5 separate regions of the Homo sapiens genome follow, and all the other regions are linked to region 5. The links come from fine-mapping of genetic effects on gene expression. A gene starts in region 5. Each other region holds a variant in brackets. All regions are shown on one strand. Distances are from middle to middle.

What was found. PIP is the estimated chance that this variant, and not a neighbour inherited with it, causes the effect.
Region 1: its variant is the best candidate, but not a certain one, in a credible set for the expression of SMC2 in whole blood (TOPMed, PIP 0.61).
Region 2: its variant is the best candidate, but not a certain one, in a credible set for the expression of SMC2 in whole blood (TOPMed, PIP 0.65).
Region 3: its variant is the best candidate, but not a certain one, in a credible set for the expression of SMC2 in sun-exposed skin (GTEx, PIP 0.54).
Region 4: its variant is the best candidate, but not a certain one, in a credible set for the expression of SMC2 in monocytes (CEDAR, PIP 0.56).

Annotation. Positions count from the first base shown.
Region 1 is chr9:104,123,421-104,129,581 of GRCh38, forward strand. SMC2 (structural maintenance of chromosomes 2) reads left to right here. Exons shown (of 25, transcript NM_006444.3): 18 at 1,492-1,685; 19 at 3,221-3,364; 20 at 3,866-4,060. Among named protein-coding and RNA genes, the nearest start is that of SMC2, 32 kb to the left of the region's middle. The variant T/C (reference allele first, on the strand shown) is at 2,816.
Region 2 is chr9:104,138,395-104,144,669 of GRCh38, forward strand. SMC2 (structural maintenance of chromosomes 2) reads left to right here. Exons shown (of 25, transcript NM_006444.3): 25 at 745-3,025. The coding sequence ends at 921. Among named protein-coding and RNA genes, the nearest start is that of SMC2, 47 kb to the left of the region's middle. The variant T/C (reference allele first, on the strand shown) is at 2,724.
Region 3 is chr9:104,151,748-104,158,022 of GRCh38, forward strand. No RefSeq gene overlaps it. Among named protein-coding and RNA genes, the nearest start is that of SMC2, 61 kb to the left of the region's middle. The variant A/G (reference allele first, on the strand shown) is at 3,742.
Region 4 is chr9:104,485,981-104,492,255 of GRCh38, forward strand. No RefSeq gene overlaps it. Among named protein-coding and RNA genes, the nearest start is that of OR13F1, 15 kb to the right of the region's middle. RefSeq lists an enhancer at 3,203-3,704. The variant C/T (reference allele first, on the strand shown) is at 3,765.
Region 5 is chr9:104,091,162-104,097,436 of GRCh38, forward strand. SMC2 (structural maintenance of chromosomes 2) reads left to right here and starts at 3,148. Exons shown (of 25, transcript NM_006444.3): 1 at 3,148-3,316; 2 at 4,163-4,391; 3 at 4,987-5,136. The coding sequence starts at 4,224. It overlaps SMC2-DT (SMC2 divergent transcript), which reads right to left and starts at 1,313. Exons shown (of 3, transcript NR_121580.1): 1 at 928-1,313. RefSeq lists enhancers at 2,431-3,100, 2,563-2,882, 3,101-3,768.

The DNA.
Region 1 (6,161 bases), 32 kb after region 5:
CTGTTCGTTTTTACCAATACTCATTTCCACCAGCAGCATATGAACATTTCTCCAAGTTCTTTTTTCTCCAGACTTTTAAAATTTTCCAAATCTGTTGGTTGTGAAAAGATAGCATGCATTAGCATTTAATTTGCATTTCCCTAATTGCTGATGAAATTTGGGATCTTTTTTTGTATGTTCATTGGACCTTTGGGTTTATACTTGTGTGAATTTTCTGTTTATTTCTTTTGCCCATGGGTTGCTCATGGTTTTTTTCCCACTGTTCTCATGCTTAAGAGTCCTAATTTCCTGTAGGTTATGTGCATTGCAAATATCCTTTTACCATCTTTTTTGGCTATGTACTGGTCTTTTAATTTTGTGTTCATAGTATTTTTGTTTTACAAAAGTTTTTAATATTTAGTGTAATTCACTTTATAGCCATTTCCCTAATTTTAAGATAGCTTATATGTTTTCCTTAGAATTTAATTGTATATGGTAGTTTAAATTTTTGTCATTCATTAGGACAATATCCACACATGTGCTTCTCCACTAATATTTTAATAGTATTTTCTGCAGTGAAAAGTAGTGTAAGAAATTGTGCGGTAATGACTTCCAAGGTTATGTTTGCACCTGGGTCCTAACACTCACAATATACATCAGTTGTTACAGCAACACGTGTTCATTCAGTATTGCCCTTTTATTTATTTTTTTGAGACGGAGTCTCTCTCTGTCCCCAGGCTGGAGTGCAGTGGCGCAATCTCAGCTCACTGCAACCTCCACCTCCTGGGTTCAGGTGCCTTCCTCAGCCTCCCGAGTAGCTGGGACTACAGGCGTGCATCACCACACCCAGCTAATTTTTGTATTTTTAGTAGAGATGAGGTTTTATCATGTTGGTCAGGATGGTCTTGATCTCTTGACCTCATGATCTGCCTGCCTTGGCTTCCCAAAGTGCTGGGATTACACAGGCATGAACTACCACGCCTGACCTTATTTTTTTCTTTCACAGATTTGGGGATGTTTTTCCTTTGCTGTATCCCAGGCATACTGTCATATTATTTGTCGACTTTAATGAGAAGTTCCCTGAATATGTATAAAATAGGCAAAGAACATAAAGTAAGCTTGTTTATGAAATTACACACTTTCTAGCAACTATAGAAAAAATACCATAGTTATACTGTTCTGGTTTTAGGAAGCATACAATTGCATTAAAAATATGATCTGTGATTTTTTTTTTTTTAATAGGTTGCTTCAATACCTTTGTAAAAGGATAGTTGTAGGTAAAGTTCAATTTCATAGCAAAAGAAATTATTTTGTTACAGATCTTTAGATAATTCAAGTATGGCTTTTGGGTAGGATCTGTGTTTCATTATACCATTTCTAGAATATCATTGGGATAGTTAATTTTCTTAAATTGTACCCTGTAATTTTCCAAACCATTTCTTCTATTAAAAGTTGAATTTGTCAACCTTTACCATTGTTAACTTAGCCACATTTGCTTACTTTGTGATGCAGAGGAAAGTGAGGAGACTTTGAAAAACACTAAAGAAATCCAAAGAAAAGCAGAAGAAAAATATGAAGTATTGGAAAATAAAATGAAAAATGCAGAAGCTGAAAGAGAGCGAGAACTGAAAGATGCTCAGAAAAAACTGGATTGTGCCAAAACAAAGGCAGATGCATCTAGCAAGAAGATGAAAGAAAAACAACAGGTAATAACTTCTTTTTGAAATTGAACCAACCTTTTAAAGTCAACATAGAGCTGAAGGTGGTAGAGCATCATTGGTTGACCTTATTCATCAGAATTGATCTCAGAATCTAAAAGGGAGCAGTGTTCTTTGGAAACAAATTATGCTTCTTACAAGTCAAAGGAGTATCCAGGATGAGCATCTCAAATCCAAAATACAAATTAGAAACTTTTTGAGTGTTGATCTGAGGCTCAAAGGAAATGTTCATTGGAGCAGATTGGATTTGGGATACTCAGTTACTCTGTATAATGCAAATATTCCAAAATCCAAAAAAAAAATCTGAAGTCTGGAAGACTTCTGGTCCTACACACTTTGGATAAGGGATATTTAATCTGTATTTTTCTCTGAAAACCCTGCAATCGAGTGTTTCATAGTTGTGAGTAGGGGATGCTAATTTTAAGGAAAGGGCAAAGTTGACGGTTGGTAAATGCTTCCTTCAAGAGTGGATGGCCTTTCTTCAGGAGTGGATTATTTGATATTCTGGATGTCATATCAGAGATTCAGCAAGTTGACATTTTTATTTGATAAGCACCTAAATGAATGTGCACTGTGAGAGCATAATGGAAGACAAAGCATGTTATATTTACAAGGTGTCATTCAGTTGTAAACTGATGATACTTTGTTATATCTTTTAGCTAATGCCAAAGCTGGAATCTGAACCTAGGTTTTTGTCTCCAAAGGCTACGTTGTTAATCACTTTTATGCGATTTCACCTAAATATATTTCCCTCGCATTTTTTTTTAGCCCACTCTAAGATTCTTGTCATTAAATAGCTGTAAAAAGTATTTTCTAATGCAGGGGTCCCCAACCCCCCAGGCCACAGACCAGTAACAGAGGAGGTGTGTGACAGGCAAATGAGGATTACTGCCTGAGTTCCACCTTGTGTCAGATCAGCTGTGGCATTAGATTCTCAGAGGAGTGCAGACCCTTTTCTGAACTGTGCATGCAAGGGATCTAGGTTGCATATTCCTTATGAGAATCTAATGCGTGATGATCTGAGATGGGGTGGTTTTATCCTGAAACCATACTCTCTCCCTGTGCCCGCCATATGGAAAAATCATCTTCCACAAATCTGGTCCTCGGTGCCAAAAAGG[T/C]TGGGGACTGCTCTTCTAATGAACTGAAGGCTATAGTGGGAAAGAAGAATATTGAGAAACTTTTTACACATTGAACAATTTTGTTTTTAAAAAAGCTTTACTTCCAGTAATTCATCTGTTACGTAGAATGTTATATTATTTTCCCTATAGGAATAAAGGATAAAGAAAATAATTTATGCAGAGTTCTTTGAACCTATAAAAATTACACATACTTTTTTTTTTGATATAGGAAAATAAACTTCCTTTTCTGGGGAAGCAGCTTAACCTGTACTTTCGGTAGCTGAGTGGTAACAAAGCTGTGGGTCTTACTTGCATGAGATTATTATTTATTTAATTGTTCTGTACATATTTGTTTTTCAGTAGTTAATAACCTATATGAATACCTGAATACTGTATTTTTTATAGGAAGTTGAAGCTATCACTCTGGAACTGGAAGAGCTCAAGAGAGAGCATACATCTTACAAACAACAGCTTGAAGCTGTAAATGAAGCTATCAAATCCTATGAAAGTCAGATTGAAGTAATGGCAGCTGAGGTGGCTAAAAATAAGGTAGGATTTATTTATCAAATTCGAGAAATTGAAAATGCGAATCTTTTTATGAAACATTAGCTTAAGATGTTTGACTTTAGTGTTCTCAGTCTTTTCACTCGTCATCATGAGAGAATGAGGCACAAATAGCTTTTACTCATCCAGAATTGCCAGTTTTGGGATCACATAGGTCAGTCAGCTTCTAGCAGTCCCTCTTCTTCCTCACTTAGTTGATTCCATCTACATTACATCTAACAAAAAACGCTCTCATTTGCAGCATGAGCGTGCAGCATGAGCATTGTACCTCCCACCCCTTTTACCAGGGATGATCCAAGTTTTCTTCTGTGTATAAATTGATTAGTCCTTTTAATGGTGATATAAAATATAGAGGGTTAGGTGATCATCTCTCTGCCTGTAATCACATTGCCCTCTTGCCCAGGGATCTGTCAGATAATTGTTTAGTAAATTAAAATTATTTACATGTTACCTCACCACATATTTTCTTTAATTTTTTTGTTTTAGGAGTCAGTAAATAAAGCTCAAGAAGAGGTGACCAAGCAAAAAGAGGTGATAACAGCCCAAGACACTGTAATTAAAGCTAAATATGCAGAAGTGGCAAAACACAAGGAGCAAAACAATGATTCTCAGCTTAAAATTAAGGAATTAGACCACAACATCAGCAAACATAAACGGGAGGCTGAAGATGGTGCTGCAAAGGTATACGTTTGTGTGCATTTTTTATACTAAATCAAATTTTTGTTACTGAGCTCTTGAAAAAATTTAGAAAACTGCTTGATAGAGAACTCTATAAATATAAATGGCAAAATTACAGCCTGGCATAAATTTGAGCTTGCAGCTTTAACTGCTTTTCAACAATGCTAATTTTCAACAAATTGCACAAATGTTTTATTTTTAGATTTAACTTTAGATATTTTTTCCCATCTACAGGATGTATTTACCAAATGTTTAGTGGTCTCCCATGGAAATAACTTTTCACCTCCAAATGTTGATAGAACTAATTACTGATGTGCTAGTAATAATGATATATATTCTCTACCTTATTTCAAATTGAATTAAAAAACTCACAGAACTATATATACAGGTAATCTAAAAAAAGGACTGAATTGGCTTCCACATGTCTTTATGAGTGTTACTGCTGTCAGTATTTGCAACTTTATAAAAAATCTGATGTTTTGCCAAGCAGCTATGTTTTTGAGGTTATCCCAGTTTCTTTCTTTCATGTGTCACAGCACCTTTACTTCAGTGCTTTAAAGATAACACGTGCTTTTGCAGAAATTCATTGCTTGGTTAAGAAGCTGCATTCACATGGTATTAATAATTCATCTAGCATGTTTTCTTATGAGTGTGTAACAGTTTGGCACCTTTTTAATGTCCAGGATATTTTTTTTTAGCATCCTAAAAATACATGAACTTTAACTTCAGAAAGATCAAGAACATACAAAACAATCTCCCTCTCTTCTGAAAGAACTGTGGAACTTGATTTAAACAACATTTTTCATGGCTACATTATAATCTACCACTTTATTACTATTGATTTCCCATTAGCTTAGTGATAGTGGACTGACTGAAATACTACCAATGGCAATGTTACTGCTAATAGTTTTTTGGTAATTGAAAATGCTAGTACTGGCGATTGCTAGGAGATTTTATTTACAAGAGTAAAAGGAGGGACTTGCAAGTGGGTCTGCTAAGAAGTCAATCAAAGATTTATACATACCTACCAGTATCAGATACTGTGCCAGGCACTGACAATGTAAGGATGAGCAACACATACAGGATGCTTTCAAAGAGTTTACAGGTCAAAAGGAAGATACACTAGAAATGATAATTGTACTTTGGGGCCTACAGGTGAGACCATATCCATGGAATTAATACAAGTCAATAAATTAACAAGGATTGGATTCTGCCAGTGAGAATGAATCATAATTCTAGTAGAAGAAAGTCTTCTTTAGGCACTATAATTTGAACTGTATAATCAGTTGTATTACATGAAAAATTATTATACAGTGCCTTTTTCAATATACTGTGCCTTTTTCAAAAGGTGGGGAGCAGGATAGAGTCAATGTTTAGGGCAGTTTCTTAGAATATATTTCTGAGAGAAAAATTATTAGGTCTCAGTCAGCATTAGGCTTCCATGATTTTTACCAAATCTATGACTTAAGTATTAAAAGAGTTTTAGCTTCTCATAAGTTGTGTTTTGAAGCAATAGATTGAATTTGGTAAATTCTGAAGGAGTTCTACCTGACTTACATTTCATTCTAATGGAGGTGCTTTGCGTATACTTCGTAAAAATTTCTCTGTGAGTTGGCTCTTCTAATGCCAAAGTAATAGGAAGATCTTTTGCTATACAGTGTCTTGTTTCTGTAGTCTGTGTTCCAGGTAAAAATATTCATCTTTATTCTTGTCAGTAATGAAACTCATTTTTAAAAATGAGTCGCCTAGGCACGGTGGCTCACGCCTGTAATCCCAGCACTTTGGGAGGCCGAGGTTGGCAGATCACCTGAGGTCGGGAGTTCCAGATCAGCCTGACCAACATGGAGAAACCCCGTCTCTACTAAAAATACAAAATTAGCTGGGCGTGGTGGTACATACCTGTGATCCCAGTTACTCAGGAGGCTGAGGCAGCAGAATCACTTGAACCTGGGAGGTGTAAGTTGCGGTCAGCCAAGATCGCGCCATTGCACTCCAGCTTGGGCAACAAGAGTGAAACTCCATCTCAAAAAAAAAAAAAAAATTAGTCATTGAAGGTTTTTTCCTCTTCAGTATTTGATTCAAAAGTATTAAATAGTTAAGAAAC
Region 2 (6,275 bases), 47 kb after region 5:
GATTCCAATTTAGTCATAATACAGAATTGATTTAGGGTTAATATAATTGTTTTCTCTAGTTAACTACCATAAAGATGTACAATCAAAACAAAACTGTCTCCGGGATATTTAACTGAGGTATCAGAAAATCATGTGACACTTGATGGGGAAATTTAATTTCTCATGGCTAAAAAGTAGAACAAAGAAAGCCTCTTGAAGCTAAGAACAGTTTGTTTTTAATGCACTATTGCTGTAGGAGCTGGGGCTGCCAAATATGCTTGCATAAATTATGCATTGTACAACTCTGGGGACTCCACTCATAGTTACCATGGATTGTGTATTTATTATAGCAGTGTTTTGGCAAATAACATTGAATGGGGCGGCGGGGCAGTGCCTAATTATTCAGAAGTTCTGTTTGGGCTAGTGGTGTGCTATAGGAACTTGAAACCTTCTTTGATATTAAAATGTCACAAGAAAAATATCTCACTAGAGCAGCTTTAGTTAGCAACAAAACTGAATGCCAGCTACAAAAGATAGCAACAAGCAGTCAACCACCAGGAAATAGTAAAATTGGGTAATGAAGTACCCAAAGTAAAATTAAGAGACTTCTAAAACAATATGGACAGCTAGCATTCATTTAGGTGCCTCATATAACTATTTAAAGAAATAAAATTATCTCCAAACCATTCTTATCACCAGTATAAAGGAGTAAACTTCAAGTATATCACAAAAAGTTTTTTTATACTTTTTTCTTTTTTCCTTAAGTTCATTGTGGTGTCACTAAAAGAAGGTATGTTCAACAATGCAAACGTTCTTTTCAAAACCAAGTTTGTGGATGGTGTTTCTACAGTAGCCAGATTTACTCAATGTCAAAATGGAAAGATTTCAAAGGAAGCAAAATCCAAGGCAAAACCACCCAAAGGAGCACATGTGGAAGTTTAAACTACAAAGTTATTTCTTCATCTTGACCTGTTTTTTTAAATGTAAACTTTTAAGGACTTGAGATAACTAATTTGTTTATATACAAAAATTAATGTTACTGTGTTACTTAACCCATGTTTTCTCTTTATATAATCACTTATCGCTTACAAATGAGCATATATTCCTCATCTCTTAACTAGTCTAATTATGGTCCAATTATTGTGGTTGTGATTTTATGCATATCATCAAATGTTTTTTTCTTATGCGGGTCTTTTATATATTAGGGATCCTGAGATACCCGATTCTATATGTAAAAGCTAATATACAAAAAAGCAGATTAAATTACATGATAAATGTAGCTGATCATCAGTGTTTAATTGATTTAATTCCTAAGGCAATATTAATGTGTTTTCTAAAGTCATTCAGGTAAGGAAGAATTATAAATCAGGTAACTGGACCAACAAAGGGAACACATATAAAGCTATTATGCATGCATGGAGCCGTTTGAGGCTAGTTTTTTAAGGCCACAACTCCAGACCCCTGATTTAGACTGAGATAGGAAACAGATCTTGAAAGAATCCTTATTTTAATGATACATGAATATCATGTTCCTATACGCTTAATAATTGGTCTCTACGTTTTAATGATACATGAATATCATGTTCCTATACGCTTAATAATTGGTCTCTACGACTTTAATGTTTTTGTTTTTTTAAGCTGTGTAAGTATTTTTAAATCAAAGCTTAGGAGGTGTGTTGCGTGGTACTATCTGCTGCAAATTTATCTGAAGTTTGTTAATATTTTCCAAGATTTTTGTCAGCCTTTTCATAATCCAGTCATTAACAACCTATTGGTAAACAAGAATGTAGGTGCCAGTAGACTAAACCAAATTTATTTTTCCCTGAGTCTGATATATATATGTATAAATATAAATAACTCAATCCATCTGTTCCACCAAAATAACTCAAAAGTTGGATGATTATTTGTCTTCCGCTTTCCAGTTCAAAGGGATGAAATTCCTTTAGAACTTGAAAGATGACACTAGCGAACACCATGAGAATACTGTCTACAGTTTTTGGTACGTCATCACTAGAACAGTGACCCCAAACTGAATCATGAAAGGTCTGACATGATGTAATCTGATCTTCCATGTGTTATTTTGGCCCCACATCTCTTCTTGATTTTTTAGTCTTATTTCCTTAGTGTTATTATCATACTTCCCCTGATATATGGCCGTACTTCCTGGCCCTGGGCTTGACATTTCCCACCCTTCATTCTCCATACATATGAGATGTCAGAAAACATGCAGTAATTGATATTATGGGACACATTGGAAAGGATTGAATCTGGAATTAGTTCTGTCCACTGTGGAGGGGAGAGGAAATAATGCTGTAAATGTTGAGTTACAGAAAGTCCAATGTCAAATATAGTTTTTTTGTTTCCTTTCAAATGTATTACAGACTGTGCCAAAACAGTTACCAATTCACACTGTCAATATTAAAGTATACCATAGTATACAAATTAGTCAGTACTTGCTGTTAATTTTAATATTTCTGATTTAACAGTTAGTTATTAAGTGGTACTTCATTGCTGTTTTAGCCAACGTTTTAAAAATAATTTGGGAGTTTGACTATTTTGGCTTACGTACTCATTTCCTTTTCTCTGCTAAAAATGTTTTGCTTGTGTGCGTTCCTGATTTTTGTCTTGTATAATCTTGATCTTTGAAAACCCTCAAACATGTATTAAATTGTTGTAACTTTTTTTCATTAGAGGGAAGACATTAAGGGGATTGGGGACATTTGTTTCACACATCTGCAGTAATA[T/C]GAGTTAACTAATATTTAACAAGCTCTTTCTTTACATTAGCTGCTGTTCTCATTTGTATGTATTGTCATATTTAATCCTCAGAGTAACCTAGTGAGGTAAATACTGTTGTTGTCAGCATGGTGTAATCGAGGAATTGAGTGAGTTGAGCAGAAAAGTTAGGAAACTTGCTCAGGGTGATAATACAGTTAGGAGTGTCAGGGCCCATGGACAAATCTTGTCAGTCTCCAGAACCTAAGATATACTACGTCACTGACAGCTTGAACATTTGTATTTATTGTACAGAATAAATTTAAGAAAAATACCTGTATGAGCAGTATGTACAACGTGAATGTTACCTTAAAGAAGAACCTCAACCATGTGAAGAGAGGATTCATTGTGGTGGTGGCGGTTTTGGCATTTCAAGTAAGCTCACAGCAAATGCAAAGCAAAGACATGAAATTTTCTCTTCCAATAGGGTGGCATAATCTAAAGGCCAACATTCCCACAGATGATAAATATAGATTCTGAGCAAAATACTAGAAACAACTACCTGAGAGTTCAGGAAACTGAAGAAAAACTAGAAAGATTTTGGATGGGAGATAAAATACGGAGGAAGAGACAGGCACAAGCTAAGGTTAATGTTTTTAACCTAAGTACCAGCTATAGTCATGATGCAGCTGTAGGACAGCTAAGGCTGCAGTGGAAAGCCTGGGGTCTTTCTGGTCTGGAGAACTAAAAGATGGGATCTGGGCTAACCACAGCTTCCAGAAAGTGAAGGAGACGTCTCAGAAGGGATAAACGAGGACCTGGAGAAAGAGGTCCCCAGACTTACTTAGTAGATGAAGTCAGCGAAAGTAATTAACCCCTGAACTCTAGATACAGAACACATCAAAGATAAAGCCAGATACTAGTTAAAACAGTAAGGATAGATTTAAATCAGTAACATACTCTTGAAATAAGAAGAGTCCAGTATGAACTGAACTCAATTTTGATTTGTATTGAGGTGACTGGGTGTCTTAAAGGGAGAATGAGGGAATAGAGGAGGATAAGTGGGGGCTTAGAGTCAGGGATATAAACAGGAAAGGGAATTGGTTGATGTGAAACCCATTTAGATTTGTTAACTGGCTCTAATGCCAAGGTAGGCTCTTACCCTCCCACAGAGACTGGGACTCTACCTTCAAGTGTTGGTTGGAAGAAACAGTAAACTCAGCAACCTTGAGTTTTCTCAGGAGTTGACTTTCAGGAGGAGGATAGTCAACCTATGGATGTGGCTTTGAGCTGTTAGAAACTGCTAGTGTTTTTTTCAGATCTTTACAGGCAAAGGTTTATTTAGACGTAGAAAGGGCTCAGAAGAACCTGGCTAGAACTTCATCAAAGAGAATCTTTGTGAAAAAGACAAGCAGTTTGCAGTTTACCATAATAAAATTAAATTGTGATTTGAACTGCCACCTGCAAGACCGTTCTCCAGGTGACCTTGGACTGACCCACTTCTCCCCACTTCTCACTAGTTGTCAAAAAGAACAGCCTTGCTATCTGGTCAGGTGAATGACAACCAAGTGGAAAAAGATCTGTGTGGTTACAAGGAGTATGGCAAAAGGTTGCTAACTGGCAAGGACAAATACATGTCACCTGTGGATGCTGGGAATACCATAGCCACCTTTTAGGGAAACTTAAATTATGTTTTTGGATACCCTGTAAAACTTTGCTCTGACAAGGAACCTCCTTTACTGCCCAAGGAACATGACAGCAGGCACACTCATGGAATACAATGGGTTTTCCATGCACCCTGTCATCCTCAGTCCAATAGAGCTGTTGAACAATGGAAAGCCAGCTCACAATGAGTGAAGGAAGGACACCAAGATAGCCTACAAGTGGGGTGGTACCACCCCATCCGAATATGGCAGTATGGACACTGAGCACTGCCCTCCAGGGCAAGGGAACCACATGATTGCAGCACATGTTGAGAAGCACTGAGCTTGGAGGAGGTACAGGTGGACCAGATGACGGCCTCTGCCTGTGAAATCCAAATTCCAGTGTTCCCAGCCATTTTCTCTTTTTAGAGTGCACATCCTGTGGGTGGTTTGCAGTTCAGGCTGCCACAGTACCCCAAAAGGCCCCCCTAACTCTTAATCTGGAGTCAGCGTTTCCCTCAGGTGCACTCCCTGTGGGATCCCTCAAGGGTGGAAACAGGACCAAGAAATACCAGGATGCTAGAGTCCCTCTGATAGTGCCAGGGACATCTGATCCTTCCATTTGGCTGGGCAATGTTGTCAGACATGTCATCATTCAAGAAGTGACTTCCCTTCCTGGACTGGATGGCTGAGGCTGAAATGTCTGAGGCATTTCAAGGGTAGTACCACAGGATATGGTAATGTTTATAGTATACAGTGTGATGTTTTGATATTTGTATATGTTATGGAATGATTACCTCAATCAAGCTAATTAACATATCATCTCACATAATTACCTTTTTTGTGTGTATGGTGAGAACATTAAGATGTATTCTGGCAAATTTTAAATATATAACAGTATTAGCTATAGTCACCATGCTGTACAGCAGATCTCCAGAACTTATTCATCATGCATAACTATGACTTTGTATTCTTTGATAAACATCTCCCCACTTCCCCTGCTCCCCAGCCCTTGGCAACCACATTCTACTCCCTGGTTCTATGCGTTTGACTTTTTCAGATTTTACAAATGAGTGAGATCATTAGAGTATTTGTCTTTCTGTGCCTCTTTGATTTCGCTTAGCATTATCCCTTCTATGTTAATACATGTCACAAATAACATGTCCTTTTTAACGCTAAATAATACTCCTGTGTGTATCTTTATATCTAGGTTGACTCTAGTTTTTTTGCTAGTATGAATACCGTAAACATTTGTGTACAGGTCACAGACATCTGATCCTTCCATTGTGGTGGGCGATGTTATCAGATAGGTCAAGTTTGTTTAGGACCTGACCTCCCTTCCTGGACTAGACCACTGAGGCCAAAAGGTCTGGGTGAAGTAACAAGGGCAATGGGGCCTGCAGAGGTAGTGGCCTCAGGATAGGGATAGACAGACTGGGTTACTGCCCCAACTCAGCCTGACCCCTATCCCATAGATGGAGTCAACTCTGAGAGATCTGGATGGTTTGGATGCATAACACCTTTGTTAGGTTCTCCTAAGCTGTGGCCATGGCCACAAAGTGATCTGCCATTCTGGACCTCATTCTGTCACAGACCACAGTGACCAAGTCTTATTAATGGCATAGTTGCATTCACTCAGGTTCTCTCGTACAATGTTATTCATGAAGCCCCTACACAGAGGGCTAACAACAATCCAGTCCCTGTTTTTGTTGTTGCCATTGGGATACTTACTCATGTAATAAAAGGTGTGTCAAAGTGCCAGCCCCTCAAGGTTTTGTTAGTTGTGGTTCTGATATTTTGCCAGAGGTCATTATTTTAAAACAGGGCACCAGCATTCCTAATGCTATAACATACACCAGTACACTAACAGAACCTGAGCCTGAGCCCTGATTACTGAGTAAGGATGTATCCATAGCATGGAAAGGAGCCAGAGGTGACCAG
Region 3 (6,275 bases), 61 kb after region 5:
ATGGAGGAGAAAAAGATTTTTACCAATGGATTGCTTCTAGATCAGCGTAAGGAAGCAGGTATTAAACATATCCTGATTACCTCTGCTTTGTGGGACCAGAAAGAACATAGGTAATTTACTTTTATAAATAATTCCAATATTTTAAGCCATATCTTCCACGCCGCCTGTCACATAATTTCCATTAGGACTAAATGAACCAAAAATGTACTGTGTTGCTACTCCATGGCCCATGCTATCCTGGTGCCTTGCTACTAACGATTTAGATAGAAAAATGTGGGTTCAGGGTAAAGAGAGAAAAGAAAGGAAGAAAACAAGGATGCATTGACTGCACAAATTTTCATCTATTAGCTCCTTTTAACAACTCAGCACAATTGCTATTATTACTCTCATAGATAAGAAAACAGGCTCAGAGACATTAATTTACCTCCCCTCAACTGAGGTATAGCAGAATCAGAATTTAAATACATCTCTTCAATTCCAAGGTTCATGATTTTTCAACATGTGTTTCTAAAATGCCATTTAATAATGTAAAAACTAAAGGGAAAAAAACTTTCTACACAGAATTTACTTAAATATATAGGATCATAAACTTCGAAATGAACTCTTTTGCCTTCCATTCTTTTAAACTAAAAGAGCAAAAAATACACAATGACTACAAACAACCATGAAACCACAATTTAGCTCAACATCTCATGCAGATAAAGGGGTGAAATAAAGTTGCAGCATAGAGAGTCAGATATACAGAGCATATAACATGTATTATGAGCCATGTAATGACTTATTTTTCCCACCACTTTTCTCAATGTACATCACTGTAATCTTGTACAGTATGCTATTTTGCCATCACCTACTAAGACAAAACCATGTACATGCTAAAAACACCTCTGTTCTTTTATTTAATGGCTCAATTGCATCAAAGCATTCCTACTTCATGCTAAAGATATTGTTATACAATTATAAAGGCAAGCAATGAAATCACTTGTATCAAGAATACAAGTTATTTATTAAGATGAGCCTTAAACATGTTTATATTCACTTTTAAACTTACCGAAAGAAAAAGCACAAAATTTAAAATATTGAGAAGTTAACAGACCCCTGAGAATGTATCCTAAGACCCCTCCCCAGAGGTCCTCAAACTGCAGTTTGAGGAGGACTACACTATAGCATATGAAAGTGTATATGCTTTTTATATAGGATCATTATTCTCTGACAAAAGTTTCTTCCACAGTAACAGTTTGCTCAGAGGATTTTTACTAAGATTTCTCATGTATGTTCTACTGTACTTTATGTAGCGTAAAGCTTTTTCCCCATCTCCCTGAAGAGTGACAGCTTCAGAACACCCTTCTTGACTTCAGGACTAAGAACAGCTAGCTGGAATAGCTCTTCCCATTTAGGTCTAGCTCTGAATTTCTCAAAGTCCTGTACAAAAGCTAAATGTAATCTATTTATTGTCCTTTCTCTTTCATAATGTGAAATTGGTGACATTGATAATATCAACTAGATAGATTGCTAGACAAATTAGAACATAGTAAATGTTCTTGCAGTTTCTTGACACATACAAGGTACTAAAAAAACGTTAAACTCTATCACCACTAACATAAATCAAAATTATTCTATACTATTCCAAATGTACATTTACACTTATATTATCATGTCTTATGGATTAATTTGTCACCCCAACAAACCAAACTCTTTGGACTCAGAGAGCAGGCTTATTCCAGCGTTTTCAGTGCCTAAATAAGTGCTTAGCACTTAGGAGTTTTTCTATCAATCAGGAATTGCTGAACTAGTGAATTCTTGTTTATGTCACCTCACATGTGATGTATAATACCTTCACATGAAACACTGTAGTAAAAAACATTTTTTAAGATTTCTGTTTTTTTGAATTGTCTTCCTTTTACCTAACAATACATGAAACATAGTAGGAAAGAATTGTATAAATTAAATCACACCTCCACCCAACCACACACACACATCTCCTTAAGAGCTCATCTGATTCAACCCCATAATTATTTTCACTGTGGGGCAATTTAAATTTAGGAATGTCAAGGAACTTCTTGTCTCTGAATGTCCAACCCAGTACTTTCTCCCTTATGTGTGCTGCCTACTACCCCTACCTACTCTGTGTCTTGGTTATTTACAGTTTTCTTATATATATTTTTTGTGCATTACTCAAATTTTCCATCCTATTTTACTTGTCTGTTTCTTCTGCCTACAAGCCCTTTATTTCAATCTCTGTCTAGAAATTGTTTGTGTATCTTTCAAGTGTCAGATTTAATGCTATGTCTACTGAGGCCTTGCTGCAGATAGCTTGAGATGCTGCCTCTTTCATATTTTTTCAGTAAGTCAAGACCTCTCAGGATGGTTACTGTATTATATTCTCTCGGTGTTATACCCCCTGGAAAGCAAGGAGGACAGGGAGAATGTTTAATGTATCTCTTTATCGTTAATACTTAGCATAGTACCTGACACAGAGAGATTAACAAATGTTTCTTTCTTCACTTGATACATAATAGTTTACATATTTATGGAGTACATGTGATATTTTGTTGCATATGTAGAGTGTGTAATAATCAAGTCAAGGGATTTGGGGAATCCATCGCCTTGAGTACTTACGGTATCTATGTTTTGGGAACATTTCAAGTTATCTCTTCTAGCTAAACAAGTATTTCTAAATGGAAAGTGTTAGACTTGTTAAAAAGTTTTTCATTTTATTAAAGATTCATGAGTTTATAATTGAGGAAATCTCAAGCACTTGGACAAGAGGTAGAGCAGATGGCTTTTCAGGAGATCCATTACGGTACTTGTAACCAAATCACAGGTAGTCTATTTGTAAGACAGCTATAGGCATAGAGGCTCTGATGATTAATACTTCTGGATGAGAGTGGGAAATGAATGAACCTTTACTGGCAGCAAAAGACAATGTCATTCCAGGGGAGAGGGAAGGACATGCATAAGGCATGAAAATATGAAACATTAAATGTTGGAGACTACAAACATTTCTATATGCCTGGGTTATAGATTGTGTAAATGGAATCAAGAAAAGAAGCTGGAAAGGCACTTCTACAACTGGATTGAGAAAAGTATTTGACTTTAAACTCTGTCTTCCTAACAAATCTGATTTGACTGGAAAATTAGAAGATCCTCAAACAATCATCAGTCAGGAGAAAAGCGGTGTGAGAAATTTTTTTTTAATGTGGATGTGGACTCATGATCTAACCTTGTGAATTTAGCACAATTCTAACGAGAGCAAAAACCAGCGACATAATTAATTTTCTAAACAGAGAGAAAAATACTGCTAAGGCAAATCCAAGGTGTTCCCTGGATTTTAGACAAAATCAGTGGAAAGGAACCACACTGAAAACTATCTTGGCCTTCTGATTTGCTTTCTGTTACAAAGCATTATCCATAGCTAAATATGCAAACTGATATATTCAAACTCAAATTCACAATGTAAAAATTGTCAATCCACTCATTTTGCAACTGCAGGCATACTATGAACATCTACTACACTTTTTGCTGCCCCCTACTTTGTCCAACCTATGGATACCACAACAGACCTAACTCAGAACCCAAAACAGGAATAAAATTTGGCCTATATTCGATGGTTGGGACGTAGAGTCTAGGTAACTATGTCAGAATCACCACTTCTCTTTGAGGCTTCTCTCATTCATCCATCCCTCTGTTGCTTTCCTCTTTTCTTCTCTCTTGAAGCTATCTACTCAAGTCTTGCTGACTACA[A/G]ACCTAATTTTCCTATTTTCTCATGGTCTTCTTTTTTAAAAACATTTTATTAGAGATGGGATGGTCTCACCATCTTACCTAGGCTGGTCTTGAACCCCTGACCTCAAGTGATCCTCTTGTGTCAGCCTCCTGAGTAGCTGGGACTACAAATCTGCACCACGGCGGGCTTCTTTTGGTTTTGAATCACTTCCATGCCCTTGTAGGTCTTTTGCTAGTATTTCTACAGGACAGCTTTCTCCCAAAATGCAATTTCTTTTCTGAAACCCTGTTTCTACCCTACTCCTAGGTCCAGCCTTCATTCCCCAGAGCTATAGCCCAGGCTAAGCCTTTGACCTTCTGCTTAATCTGAGAAGAAAATTTGGACTCTTATAATATTTTCAGCTAAAAATATTCTAGTGAGCAACTTAAGTCATTTTTTTTTCTTTCTCTGAAAGGAAATAAAAAGTTTGAAAGAGTAATACCAAACTAAGTAGGCATAGTTACTTCCAAATTCCTTAAATAATGATGATTTCCAACATTTCACAGGAAACATTATCAAATAATCCAGATAAAAAGATATGCTGCACAGTAAGTATATAAATGTAGCAACTGCCACAAATGAAATCATTTCTTAGCACTAAATCTTTTAAAGTGAAAAACAACAGTTTAGTGTGTTGGTACAAAAGCCTGTTTGAGCCATGTGCAGTTTGTGACAAAATCTACTGAAACTGCAATTAGTAATCTTCATGTTTTGATATATATTTTTCCCTGAAAACATATGGTCATAGATTTCATAGATTTTCAGTTCTAGTTTTTAACTTCTCACCCAAATTGCCATTCTTAATTCAAATTCCTTTCTGCAATGAAAGCACAGAATTTCAAGTGGTATTTTTTTTACTGTGTATGTGTGTGTGTGTGTGTGTGTGTGTGTGTGTGTGTGTAGACATAAAAGAACATTTCCAATGAGAGAAAAATACGTGTGGACCAATGTTATATGTTATATACACACACACACATAGGCTGTATATATGTAATTATATATATATATATATATATATAATTGTATATATATAATTTGGTGTTAAAAGGTCTCAATATAAGTTTTTCTTAGTTTTGACTGGTGCGATTCAGAATACAAAATAAGTAGACAGCAGTTATTTGGAGAGGGATTGGCATCACTTTGTCACTTTGTAGATGTTTTTTAGATGAGGCTGCTATTCACCATTTTCTTAAAAAAGAAATGCACCAAACAACATACAGCTTTTGCATTTTACATGCCTGTGAAACAGGTATAAAGTACTAATAACATTGATAAAATTTTAGAATTATACCATGGTATTCTTTTTCTTTTCAAGCTTTCAATTACCTCTTTATAATTATTTTATTTATTTATTTATTTATTTAGAGACAGAGTCTCGTTCTGTTGCCCAGGCTGGAGTGCAGTGGTGCAATCTCAGGTCACTGTAATCTATGCCTCCCTGGTTCAAGCCATTCTCGTGCCTCCGCCTCCCAAGTAGCTGGGATTACAGGCATTCACCACCATGCCCAGTAGAGATGGGGTTTCTCCATGTTGGCCAGCCTGGTCTTGAACTTCTGACATCAGGTGATCCACCCCCTCCTTGGCCTCCCAAAGTGCTGGGATTACAGGAGTGAGCCACCATGCCCAGCTTATTTTAAATATTTTTAAATTCTCTTATAAATAATGTGTGCATGGGCATGGCCAAAGAAATTCAAAATTTACATTTTATACCTATAAAAAGAAAATTATTCCTCCCACTGTCCACTCACATTTCTATTTCCAGAGTAACCCTTTTAGACCATTCCTATTTTACTCTTTTCTAATTAATCAATTTTTTCTTTCCATTGTGTCAGCACCATAAAGGTATTTGAGTACATTTATTTTTGATCGAGATTATGGAAGAGACCTTCCTATTTAATTGTCCTGGAGCAGAAATTCCATCATGCATGCTACTGCTTATTGCATCCTCCGTAGTGTAATAGACCTACCTCTGCTATGTAGTGGAGTTCTCTAGTGGACTTCTCACAACCTACACATGACAAATCAACTTTAGACTAAAACAGGATTTATATTGGAATGACATATAACATTGTTCCACACTTATTTTTCTCTCATTGGTAATATTCTTTTATGTCTATAACTCTTACTGTAAACATATTAGTTTGGTGCAAAAGTAATTACATTTTTCACTTTTTTTTTTTTTTGAGATGGAGTCTCACTCTGTCACTCGGGCTGGGGTGCAGTGGCGTGATCTCGGCTCACTGCAACCTCCGCCTCCCGGGTTCGAGGATTCTCATTCCCCAGCATCCTGAGTAGCTGGGACTACAGGTGTGCACCACCATGCCTGGCTAATTTTTGTATTTTTGGTAGAGACGGAGTTTCATCATGTTGGCCAGGATGGTCTCGAACTTCTGCTCTCAAGTGATCTGCCCACCTCAGCTTCCCAAAGTTTTGGGAATACAGGCGTGAACCACTGCACCTGGCCAGTTTTTGCTATTCCCCTCAATGGTATAAACCACAATTACTTTTGCACCAA
Region 4 (6,275 bases), 390 kb after region 5:
AGCTCATTTAGTAAATTAGAGAGAGACAGCAGGTCATACCATAAAGAGCCTGGATCCTAAAGTCAGATAAGCCTAGGCTCAAACTTTACGTATTCCACTGTGTGACTCTGAACAGGTTATTTTATTATGAAAAGCCTCTATTACTTAATCTGTAAAATGGAAATTGTTTCACAGGGTGAAGAGCTAATTAGATAATTAAATATGTATTAAAGTATCCAGCATATTGGCTAGCTCATAATAATCACTCATAAATTTTTTATTGCTGTTGTTATACTGAACCGTTGCACCGGGCACAAGCCCTTTCCATTATAAAGCCTGGAAGAACTGAGGCATGAAGGTGGAATGTGATAGTTGATTGGGCCCAGGTTTACAAGGAGGGCAATAGCAGAAGGATTATATTGGCATGCTAGGACATGTAGTATCAAATTGTGTCTTGCAAACTACAAGATATATAAAGGGACTTGACCTCATCCATGTACTTATAAGTTGGTAGATTTGTTTTAAAGACTTTGAAAAGTCTGTTTTTGAGAAAATGTGGATGTTTAAAGTCACCTACTAATCAACGGATAGTGATACAGTTTGGATGTCTGTCCCCTCCAAATCTCATGTTGAAATGTGATCCCCAGTGTTGAAGGTGGGAACTGGTGTCTGGGTCATGGGGGCATGGCGTGATCTCGGCTCACTGCAGCCTCTGCCTACCAGGTTCAAGCGTTTCTCATGCCTCAGCCCTCCCAAGTAGCTGGGATTACAGGCATCTGCCAACATGCCCAGCTAATTTTTGTATTTTTAGTAGAGATGGGGTTTCACCATGTCGACCAGACTGGTCTCCAACTCCTGACCTCAAGTGATCCACCCCTCCTTGGCCTCCCAACGTGCTGGGATTACAGGCGTAAGCCACCATACCTGGCCCCCTTAATTATTTTGGTCTCAGAAATTTAACTTATCAGTGTGGCAAGAGTTAACTGGCCTCTTAGGGGCTGGTTCATAACAACCAAATTCTCAAGAGATAAATGATAAAGCAGACACTAACAGATTTATCAATTTACCATGGAAGAATAAACAGCAGATTTACTAATTTACCAAGGAATAAACACTTCCAACAAGCCCAGGACACTCTTCTCCTGCCATTAGATACCAGATACTTAGGTAGTTTGGAAATGGATGTGTTGTCAAAAGTTTGTCAGTAACAAAAAATCAGAGAAAAGAAATAGGATACTCTTGAGGAATATTTCAACAAAGATAAAGAAAAGCTAATGGTTTCTCCATGTCCCCTAATCCTGTTCATTTTCTAGTGGTCAGACTGTCTTTTAGATAAAGTGTCTCTATGTGGTACAAAATTCCTCCTTTTCTAGACTCAAGCAGATAAGGCCACTCTTTTGTTAATGGGAGCATGCACCTTGCAGATAATTCAGTGACAATTTTCCCTTCTTATAGCCTGGCCACTTTAGTAAAGCTTGGACATTGTCCATAATTTAGTCATTTATCCTCGTACCAGTTTGTAAACTGTATGGTTATGTCTGTACATGATTAAACTCTTGGATATTGTGTGCTGAGTCCTATGAGATACTCTCATGGAGAATGATTTTATCTACCTACAAGCATTGAAGACACTTTATCATGACTCCTACAGAAACGACAACACCAACTCTCACTGGTCCCATTAGGACACACAGGAAATTCTCTGCAAAAGGACTAGCAACTTTGACTCTTTGTAACATGACTTCATGATGGATGCTGCAGTCATTTCTCAAGGATACTTGTTAAGCATAGTCTTCGTTTTTGGTAGGTGATTTACAGAAATATTTAAATGTGTTTCAGCAAGTTAAACATGTCAGCACATGTCAAAACACTGAAGTTATAATGACAGTCTATGACCTTAGCACAAACATGATGTCAATATTGAGAGACCTCTTGTTATCATTAACATCCTCCTTGAACTGAGTGTCTTTGAAAGACTCTTTACCGAGCTCTTAAACAAATTAATTACTGCACATATTTCCTAATTGAAATATTCAGGGCATTAATTTTTTATGGAATTCAGGAATTCTAAAGGGTAGGAATAATTTGATCTTTCTCGGAGTGGGAAGAAGTTTGTTTCTAACAGGAGCTTAATAAAAGAAACTCTGTCTCTATTAATCATAATTAATAGATAATCATATACAATATAATCTAAATCAACATAATAAGAAAAATTGTTGTTTTCAAATAATAAAGTTCAGAAAAATAAGTTGCATCATTAAGTCTGGATACTTGGTACAAAGTAGGAACTGAAGAAATGCTGAATGAAACCTTTACATCTGCCATAATTGTGTAAAGTTTTAATTATGAACAAATTTTCATTGATTTTTATTTGAGGCCATGTTTTGGACATTTCTCCTTCAGTTTTAAATGAATAAATGCTTACCAAGAACTGGCTAAGTGTGATTCAACTCCATGTGCTAGTCAGGCACACCATGTTAGGCACTACGGTGAGTTAATACTAAGTTAGCATCCATGGTGAAACCCCGTGTCTACCAAAAATACAAAAAATTAGCCAAGCGTGGTGGCATGCACCTGTAGTCCCAGCTACTTGGGAGGCTGAGGCAAGAGAATCGCTTGAACCCAGGAGGTGGAGGTTGCAGTGAGTCAAGATTGCGCCCCTGCACTCCAGCCTGGGCGACACAATGAGACTCCATCTCAAAATAAATAAATAAATAAATAAATAAAAATGTAAAATAAAAATACTAAGCATTACAAAGAATTTAAATTTATTCCATGATATACAACTTTTGGGGTGTATTAATTTACCGATGTTCAGATTTGATATTATTTGATTGGACTTTGAAGACCATACTTCAATTACATTTATCAATTTCTATTTGTTTATCCTTAAAAATAATTACATTAATAATAAAAACATTTAGACTTGTAATCTTGTGACCTGCCTGCAAGTCATTTATCAAATAAATTGCTGATTCTTTAAATAGTTCTTAAGAGGACCTCCAATTTCAGAACTACTGGGTTAACTGTTTTCAATCTGTTCAATTATACAGTTTGATAACATGTATTTACAAAGCACCAGCAATGTGCTGAATCCTAGGAAAACAGTGTAAGTGAAAACAAATGAGATGCCATCTTCCGTCTGTGTGACTCTGCAAAGGCACGGCTGATGTCTTATTTTAGTATGTTGCCTTTCATTTTTGGCCATGTCTTACTACAAGGGCTCCTATTGCTATTTTTATTTTTTATTTTTTTTATTATTATTTTTTTTAGTATTTATTGATCATTCTTGGGTGTTTCTCGGAGAGGGGGATGTGGCAGGGTCATAGGACAATAGTGGAGGGAAGGTCAGCAGATAAACATGTGAACAAGGGTCTCTGGTTTTCCTAGGCAGAGGATCCTGTGGCCTTCCGTAGTGTTTGTGTCCCTGGGTACTTGAGATTAGGGAGTGGTGATGACTCTTAACCAGCATGCTGCCTTCAAGCATCTGTTTAACAAAGCACATCTTGCACCGCCCTTAATCCATTTAACCCTGAGTGGACACAGCACATGTTTCAGAGAGCAGGGGGTTGGGGGTAAGGTTACAGATTAACAGCATCCCAAGGCAGAAGAATTTTTCTTAGTACAGAACAAAATGGAGTCTCCTATGTCTACTTCTTTCTACACAGACACCGCAACAATCTGATTTCTCTTTCTTTTCCCCACATTTCCCCCCTTTCTATTTGACAAAACCGCCATCGTCATCATGGCCCGTTCTCAATGAGCTGTTGGGCACACCTTCCAGA[C/T]GGGGTCGCGGCCGGGCAGAGGCGCTCCCCACATCTCAGACGATGGGCGGCCGGACAGAGACGCTCCTCACTTCCCAGACGGGATGGCGGCCGGGAAGAGGCGCTGCTCACTTCCCAGACTGGGCGGCCGGGCAGAGGGGCTCCTCACATCCCAGACGATGGGCAGCCGGGCAGAGACGCTCCTCACTTCCCAGACGGGGTGGCGGCCGGGAAGAGGCGCTCCTCACTTCCCAGACTGGGCGGCCGGGCAGAGGGGCTCCTCACATCCCAGACGATGGGCGGCCAGGCAGAGACACTCCTCAGTTCCCAGACGGGGTCGCCGCCGGGCAGAGGTGCTCTTCACATCTTAGACTGGGCGGCCGGGCAGAGGGGCTCCTCACATCCCAGACTATGGGCGGCCAGGCAGAGACGCTCCTCACTTCCCAGACGGGGTGGCGGCCGGGCAGAGGCTGTAATCTTAGCACTTTGGGAGGCCAAGGCAGGCGGCTGGGAGGTGGAGGTTGTAGCGAGCCGAGATCACGCCACTGCACTCCAGCCTGGGCAACATTGAGCACTGAGTGAGCGAGACTCCGTCTGCAATCCCAGCACCTCGGGAGGCCGAGCTGGGCAGATCACTCGCGGTCAGGAGCTGGAGACCAGCCCGGCCAACACGGCCAAACCCCGTCTCCACCAAAAAATACAAAAACCAGTCAGGCGTGGTGGCACGCGCCTGCAATCCCAGGCACTCTGCAGGCTGAGGCAGGAGAATCAGGCAGGGAGGTTGCAGTGAGCCGAGATGGCGGCAGTACAGTCCAGCCTCCGCTCGGCATCAGAGGGAGACCGTGGAGAGAGGGGAGACGGGAGAGGGGAGAGGGGAGAGGGAGAGGGCTATTTTTAGTAATATATATTTTAACTGGCAGTTCTCCGGCCAGATCTGTGGTTGCATTCTCTTATACTAGCCGGTCTCACACTTAAATCCATTGGCAGAGCATCTGAAAGATGCAGTGTTCTCTGCAGAAGCATAGTTAACCTGGCATAAAATTAGGAAGAATTCTTCCACGGCAATGTGACTCCATTACATTAATAAACTATACATTTATATGCAGGAATCCATCATTCCACACATTAAAAAGCTGTTAAATGAAGCTAAGTTGAGGGTTTTGAAAATAAATTTAAGCCAGTGAAAAGAGTTAAGTATTAAAATAATGTTATTTGAGAATGCTGAAGAATTAAACAATTAATGAGCACATTAAGGTTAAGAGAGGACATTCAAGAGTTGTCCTTCATTGGGGAAGAGGACACTAATCATGATGACAATCATGACTCAACAGATATGCTCAAAGACATACCCAGGTGTTATGTGTACCCTCACTTGCCTGACCCTTAAAAGTGGCCAGCAGAATGGTCAATGAGGTTTGAGAAAAGAGGGAATAGCAAGAGTGCAAGAATAACCCACAGGCTGACATGGTATCTTCATCAACCACCTGCAAAGTATCTGACACTTGCCCTGTATTCTGGCACTGATCACAATGGGCATTCAGGTCATTCGTGCTGCAGACATGCACATGTGTATATCCAGGTTATTAAATGAGCTCAACTCCATGAGGGTACACTCCTCCTCAAGACAGAGATCATGCCTTATCCAGCTCAAAGTTCTCTGGGCTGGAAACTGGGCCTTCACACAGAAAGTATTTTTCAAAAGTTTCTTGTGGATATTAATGAGCAAAATATTTTTCTAAATATAGTTGATGTAAATAACACATGTTGGGAAGACAAATTTATACAACACTAAAACCCAGCTATAAGGTAACTGCAGTTGACTCATTTCATTGCTAAAGCACAATCACTTGCTAACATCCTCTTCTTGGGCAGTCTTTTAAGTGGCCAGTTTGGCTGCTATAGGTAACATCATTTCCTGATGGACATCATCTTGGATAGAAAATAGAATACAGAATAACATTACAAGGAGCATCTTGCCTTTGCCTATGAGATAAGAAACTAGTGCTCTTCAAGGCTCAAAAACAAAAACAAAAAATGAAAACTGGGCACACATAAGAGGTCTTAGAATATTTGCTGTAGGAAACTTGGTCATTCAGAACTTAATGAGGCTTTATGTTGCCATTTTTTCTTTAAAACATGAAGTATGAGTGCCAACATTTTGATATATTACAATCTCTGTCTCCCATCCTGTCCTACTTTTAAGCCCCTTCTATTTTCTTCTGACTCATAATTTTTCAGTCATGTACCAGATGTAAGCACGACATCATGTATAAAAAAAAGGAAGGAAGGGAGGGAGAGATGGAGCAAGGGAGGAAGGAAGGAAGGAAAAAGAGAAAAAGAAATAATTTATTCTTGCTTTTTAGCATAAAGATTTAATGACACATTTCAAACATTTCTATACAATGGCCATGTTGACCATCTCATAAAACTTAACCACCCCCCAACACACACAAAAAATGAAAGAAATCCACCAGAGGATACTTAAAATCCCAACTTGGGAAATAGTTTTAAGGCCTTCTATTATGGGTTGAA
Region 5 (6,275 bases):
ACGACGAGATACGTTCTGAGAAACGCCTCATTAGGCAATTTCATTGTTGTGCAAACATCATGAAGTATACTTAACACAAACCTACATATTATAGCCTTATGATTCTAGACTACAAACTTTTATAGCATATTACTGTACTGAATAATGTAGGTAACTATAACACAATGTTGTGTTTGTGTTTCTAAACAGAAAGGGTAGTATGTTGCACTACGATGTTACAACATCACTAAGCAACAGGAATTATCCATTATAATCTTAAGGGACCACAGTCACATAATGTAATCAGACATTGAAATATTATGTGGTGCACGAGTGTATTCAAAAAGTGCTGCCAGGCCACTGCCCTCCAGCCTGAGACAGAGTGAGACTCCTTCTCTGAAAAAATAAAAGTGCTGCTAGTCAATCCAATGTAAAAATATAAACTTCCTGTCATTATCAATTCATTTCCTTGAACCTAAAAATAATCTCTCAACAAAATGAGTCTTCCTTACTTCTGCGGTAAAGTCCTTTCTTTTTTTCTTGTCCTTTGTTCCAAGGAGAAAGGATTCACTCGGGTCCCTGTGAGAAGAGCTTCTTTAGCACTCTAAAATTAGAAAAGTATACCCAGGAGAGAGCAGGTTCCTTCCAGTTCCCTAGGAGAGTAGAGCACCAAATATTTCTCCTAGGTCTTGCTTTGTGGCTGTATGTGTGTCCTTGCTGGTACTGATGATGCCTTCCATATAAGGACTCAGACTCCACTAGCTGCCAGATTTCTGCTTGAAACACTGCCCGCTAGCGTTGAAGCTTTCAAACGATTTTAATCCATGGTGATGAAGCAAGAACAGTGTTTTCTGTACACTGCATCTACCCTATACTCTCTGTTTCTACCCCTCACATCTCCAAATTAGGGGGCTTCACTGGCTTTGTGCCTTGGTTTTTTCCACTCACCTGTGTGATCTCAGGAGGCAGAGTTTCAAGTTAGTCATCAGTGATTTCCTCAAGTCCATTTGTCTTATATTTAGCAGCAATTCCTTAGTGCTTCTGGCACGCAATAAGACTAAAACTGAGAGATCTCCACCTTTATAAGCATTTTTCATTTTAATCAATGGTCTTAATGGGAGTAGTTAGATCTGCACATTCTTCTAACCACCCAGGAGTCCTTATCCAACAACAGTGCACTTGTGTATGTTTTCATCCATGTGACGTAAGTGTATCAGCTAGTTGTTAAAGTGCAAAGACTAACAGTCTGTCTTAACACATATTTCCATACCAAAAAATCACTTTATTTCACAACGTGACAAAGTCCACATTAGGATTTGTTGGCAAATTAAAATTCTTTACTCACAAAATGATAAAAGGAAGGAGACACAGCTCAAAGTTAATGTGTAAGAGTTAACAGAATCAATACAAGTGAATAGCTGTGGAGCCCAGGGGATGCAGGAATCAAGGCAGACAAAGATATCTGTTGAATTAAATTAATGTTAGGTCACTACCCATGGTTGACATCACAGAAGTGGATAAGCATACCAGAGTAAACAAAGGAATCCTTTCTTAAACAAAAAACCCATACAACTTATTTTACTCCCTTATCGAGAAATATTTTCAAAATATAAGCCCATTCCTGGTAGGTTAAGACCAATTCAGATGACTGCATTGCCATTCCAGGGCCAAGAAAGCAACTTTAAAAACATGACCTACGCTATGGTCTAAATGTGTCCCTCAAAATGCACATTTTGAAATCCTAACTCCCGAACTGACGGTTTTAGCAAGTGGCATCTTGGGAAGTGAGGAATGGGATTAAGGTCCTTATAAAATAGGCCCAAGCGAGGGCCTCTGCCTCTCCACCATGCGAGGACAGAGCCAGAAGGTGCTATCCACTAAAGAGAAAGCACCCCTCCCTAGACACACCTTATTCTGTGACATTCCAGCCTTCAGAAATGTGAAGAATAAACTTCTGTGGTTCATAAACTACCCAGTCTAGGATATTTTGTTATGGAAGCCCAAAAGGATCAAGCCATTCCAAAATAGCATTGTTGCCCACACCATCTTTTTGAACCTCACTTAGGGTAACACCATACCCATTCGGAGTTAAGCCCTTCCTAACTCTTAAGTATCAACGTGCTTGGAAACGTGAGCAATCCTGACACGTTTTTTCTTCCTAAAGAACAATACATACTAATAATAGGATCGGCTAATAATACTAGATTCTATGCATGAAGCCTAGTATTTAAAAGCATGCAATCTGGAGCTAGACCGCCTGGGAACAAATCCCAGCTTACTAGACAAGCTGTTTAACCTTTTACTTGGTCTCATTTAACTCATTTGTAAAACGAGGGCAATTTCTGATTTCATAGGGTTGCTACGTGGATTTTAAAAAGCCCCTTGCAATATAGCCTAATATTCAGAACTCAATAACATGAACTGTCTTAAAAGGTTTCCAGAAAAAATCCCCAACAGGTTAGGTCGGCTTATCATTACAACGCTTTCCGGTATAAGGGAGATGAATAGCTATTTAGCACCACACAATTTCTCCTCTGGGCTCGGAACAGCTCTCGGTAGACTACGATCCCTTTCCGACGTGGAAACTTCAGATAAAAACGCTCCCCGAGGTCCGAGGCCAGTACGGGGCGGAGCCAGGACGCGGGCCAGAGTCCCCCGAAGGACGGTGCCTCTCTGGCCCCAAGAAGTACAGCTTTTATTTTGCAGCAATCTGAGCCAACCCGAGAAGATTCTGAAGCTTCCAAAACAGAACCGACGAGAACACTCATAGAATGCCTCTCCACTTCCTAACTGTCGCTTTGAGGAGAGAAAAGTAAGCCACAGCCAGCACCGCAGACTGGAGAAGGCGGAGTCTGCAGTGTGCCTAACGCGAACTAGAGGGACCGAGGCGGGGCGGGGCTGGCGAAGCGCGAGGACCCGGGGCCGAGGTGTGGGGCTGACCATAGAGTGCCGGACGCCGGTGTGAACATACACTATCTGCTCCTGTAGTGCCCAGGCCCCTGCCGGGGAGTCCCCGGAGCTACCATTATCGAGACTCTCATTCTATTGCCCTGCGGCTTTAATCCTTCGAGTGTAGGGGAAAAATTGAACCCTAAAGACAGGCAGCTCCTAGGCACCAGCACAGGAAATAAGCAATGGAGGTGGGGTCCTTTGCTCGCGCCGAAATTCAAAGGAATAAATAGTTCCGGCGCGGGTGTTGAGAGCGGTGTGGCAGGTGTTGTAGCCGCTATGGTGAAGTTCGCTTTGTAGCGGCCCCGGCTAGAGAGTTGTTCTGTTCCCTGCCTTTGTGACCCGGAGGAGCTTTTGGGGTGCGTCAAGCCCCTGGCCTGAGGCAGCGGTGAGGCGTGTGCGTGAGCACGGCCGGTTGGGCCGGGCCAGACTTCCTGGCGGGAGGCGGGAGGCGGGAGGCGGGGCGCGGGGCGCGGGGGCTGTAGGGAGGGGGACCAGTGGCAGAGGGACCTTAGGTGATCCTTAGAAATAAAGGCTAGCTTCTGTTCGACCTTGGAGTAGGGCGAAGAGGTGTAGACAGGCCTGGAGAAGCGAGGTAAAAGCCTGAGTAAAAGCAAGAAGTTGGAGAATATGAGATACATCTCATCTCTAGTAAATACTTAAATGACTTCCCCTCCTCCCGGAGTCAAGCACAATTCGGGGATGCAATGACGGACGTAGGTGAAGACACTGCGGGAACTTACAGACAAGTAATGACCGTCTAATATCAGCTTTAAGTACCATGAAGGAAAAAGAAAGCCGAGTGAAGGATTGTGGAGAGGTGACATAGGGAGGTCAGGGAGGACTCCAGTAAGGTGACATTTGAGCAAAGACGTGAGTGCAGTAGAGAGTAAGCTATGTCAGTATCAGAGAAAAGCACATTATAGGCAAAGATAATGGGATATGTAATAATCCATAGTCTTTGTTTAGGTAGAGTATGATAAAAGTAGAAGGCAAGCCTGGAAAAACGGGTAGAAGAAATAGTTAAGACTTCCCAGTTGAATGGTTTAATTTCCAGATAGTGGCTAACTCTGGTATATTTTTGAGTAGATGAACGATGTCTTTACATCAGACAAGATAGTTTGTCAAGTGGCTGTTTTATTTCTATCACCCTATCGTTGCTGTTTTTGCCTCGTGTTCATTATGATTCCAGGTTTACATTCCACTTAGGTGGTGGTATTTCTGTTTCGTACAGAACTGGTTTGTGGCCTGTTTGATTCCTGTCAGAGGTTTGCTGACCCAAGACAGTATCGAAAATGCATATTAAGTCAATTATTCTAGAGGGATTCAAGTCCTATGCTCAGAGGACCGAAGTCAATGGTTTTGACCCCCTCTTCAATGCTATCACTGGCTTAAATGGTAGTGGGAAATCCAACATATTGGACTCCATCTGCTTTTTGCTGGGCATCTCCAACCTGTCTCAGGTAAAGTGTAAACTTTCTGATTTATTTGAATTTAAGTTGGCAGGAGAATCCTCACTGAACTTTGGAGACGTCCCGATATTCTCTTCATTTGTGTTTTTATACTTTTTGTAAATTACACCTCACTGCAACCTTTTAAGGAAAGTAATATTACTCCTTTAGATGAGAAAATAGAAACTTAGAGATGTTTAGAAGTAACAGTGCCTCAAAACTCAGGCATTCTGACTGTAAAGCAGTCTCATTCCAGAGTATTTTCAACCCTGTGTAATGATGCCTTTTCAAATCCTATTAATGGATTGAATGACTAGTGAAAATCTTTGGGACAGTATTTCCTTATATCTTGCAAAGTAACTTTTTATTAAAAAATGAATAGGAAACAATTCAATTCAGGGTTGAAAAGGTTCTGTAGAGAAAAGTGTCCATTGCAGGTTGTTGCCTATTTTCCTTGTTTTTCTTGCCAGAGGATGCAGCTGCCTAACCTTGTCTACTTAATGGACACTACGTTGGTGGGTTTTCCAACAGCAAGGGACCCATTTTTAGTGCTGCTTTGTACGGTAGGGAGTTTTGTAATTGTTACACTTTTCATATTTTATTTTAGGTTCGGGCTTCTAATTTACAAGATTTAGTTTACAAAAATGGGCAGGCTGGTATTACCAAAGCCTCTGTGTCAATCACTTTTGATAATTCTGACAAAAAGCAAAGTCCTTTAGGATTTGAGGTTCATGATGAAATCACAGTAACAAGGCAGGTGAGTGGCAATTAAACCTTTGGGTATCTTAAGACCTTTTATGTCTGATGTGGTTTTTGGCCCTATGCCTTTGCAAAACGTGCTAGAGAAAGTTCATGAGCAAAATTGGTGCCTTAAATTCTGACTAGATTCCTTAATGTCTTCCTTATATTAAAATCTTGATCATGCACATTCTATCACTAAGAGGATTGAAAGACAGCTGAAAAGTTGTTCATCCAGTATAAGCACTCAGCTATGCTGAAATCTTAAACCATATTTGAATCTTCTTTGGTTGTTCTTGAACACCTGTGTACTTGAGATCTTTCAATCTTCTGAGATAACCCATTCTGTTTTTGGACAGGTCTTATTAGAAAGTTAACAGCTATAAGTTTTGTCAGAGTCTGCTGTCTTCAAATTTTATTCATTAATCCTAGTCCTCTTGAGAGCACCAAGAGCAAATCTAACTTATTCCCTACTTCAGTGTTTAAGTGATGTGCAAGTATATGTGTTTTAGTTCTAAGTGAAATCTTGCCAGGTCTTTCACTTGATGTTTGTTCCTAGTTCCTTCACTTGCCTGATTATACCAAGTATGCTCCAGTTTCCCTCCCTGCTCCTGCATTCATCTATCTTTCTTTCTTTTAATGGCACCTTAGATTGGGTGTACCAAAATTGGTCTAGTTGGAGTTATTCTTTCATTTTAGATATTCTACTTTTATTTTTCCCAGTAGAGCATTGGGGTGTTCATAATACATTGTGGATTCATATTAGATTTACTTGAAACCACTCAATTTTTTTTTAGGTGTGTTATTAATATAGTCAGGCAGTGTTTTCAGCTTGTCAAGGTTTTTTTTTTTTTTTTTTTTTTTCCTGAGACGGAGTCTCGCTCTGTTACCCAGGCTGGTCTCCATCTCCCGGGTTCAAGAGATTCTTCTGCCTCAGCCTCCTGAGTAGCTGGGACTACAGGTGCCCACCACCACACCCGGCTAATTTTTTTTTGTTTTTTGTATTTTTAGTAGAGACGGGATTTCGCTATGTTGGCCAGGGTGGTCTCAATCTCCTGACCTCATGATCTGCCCGCCTTGGCCTCCCAAAGTGCTAGGATTACAGGTGTGAGCCACGGCGCCTGGCCCAAGATTTTGTTTTTAAAAATGTTGTCAACT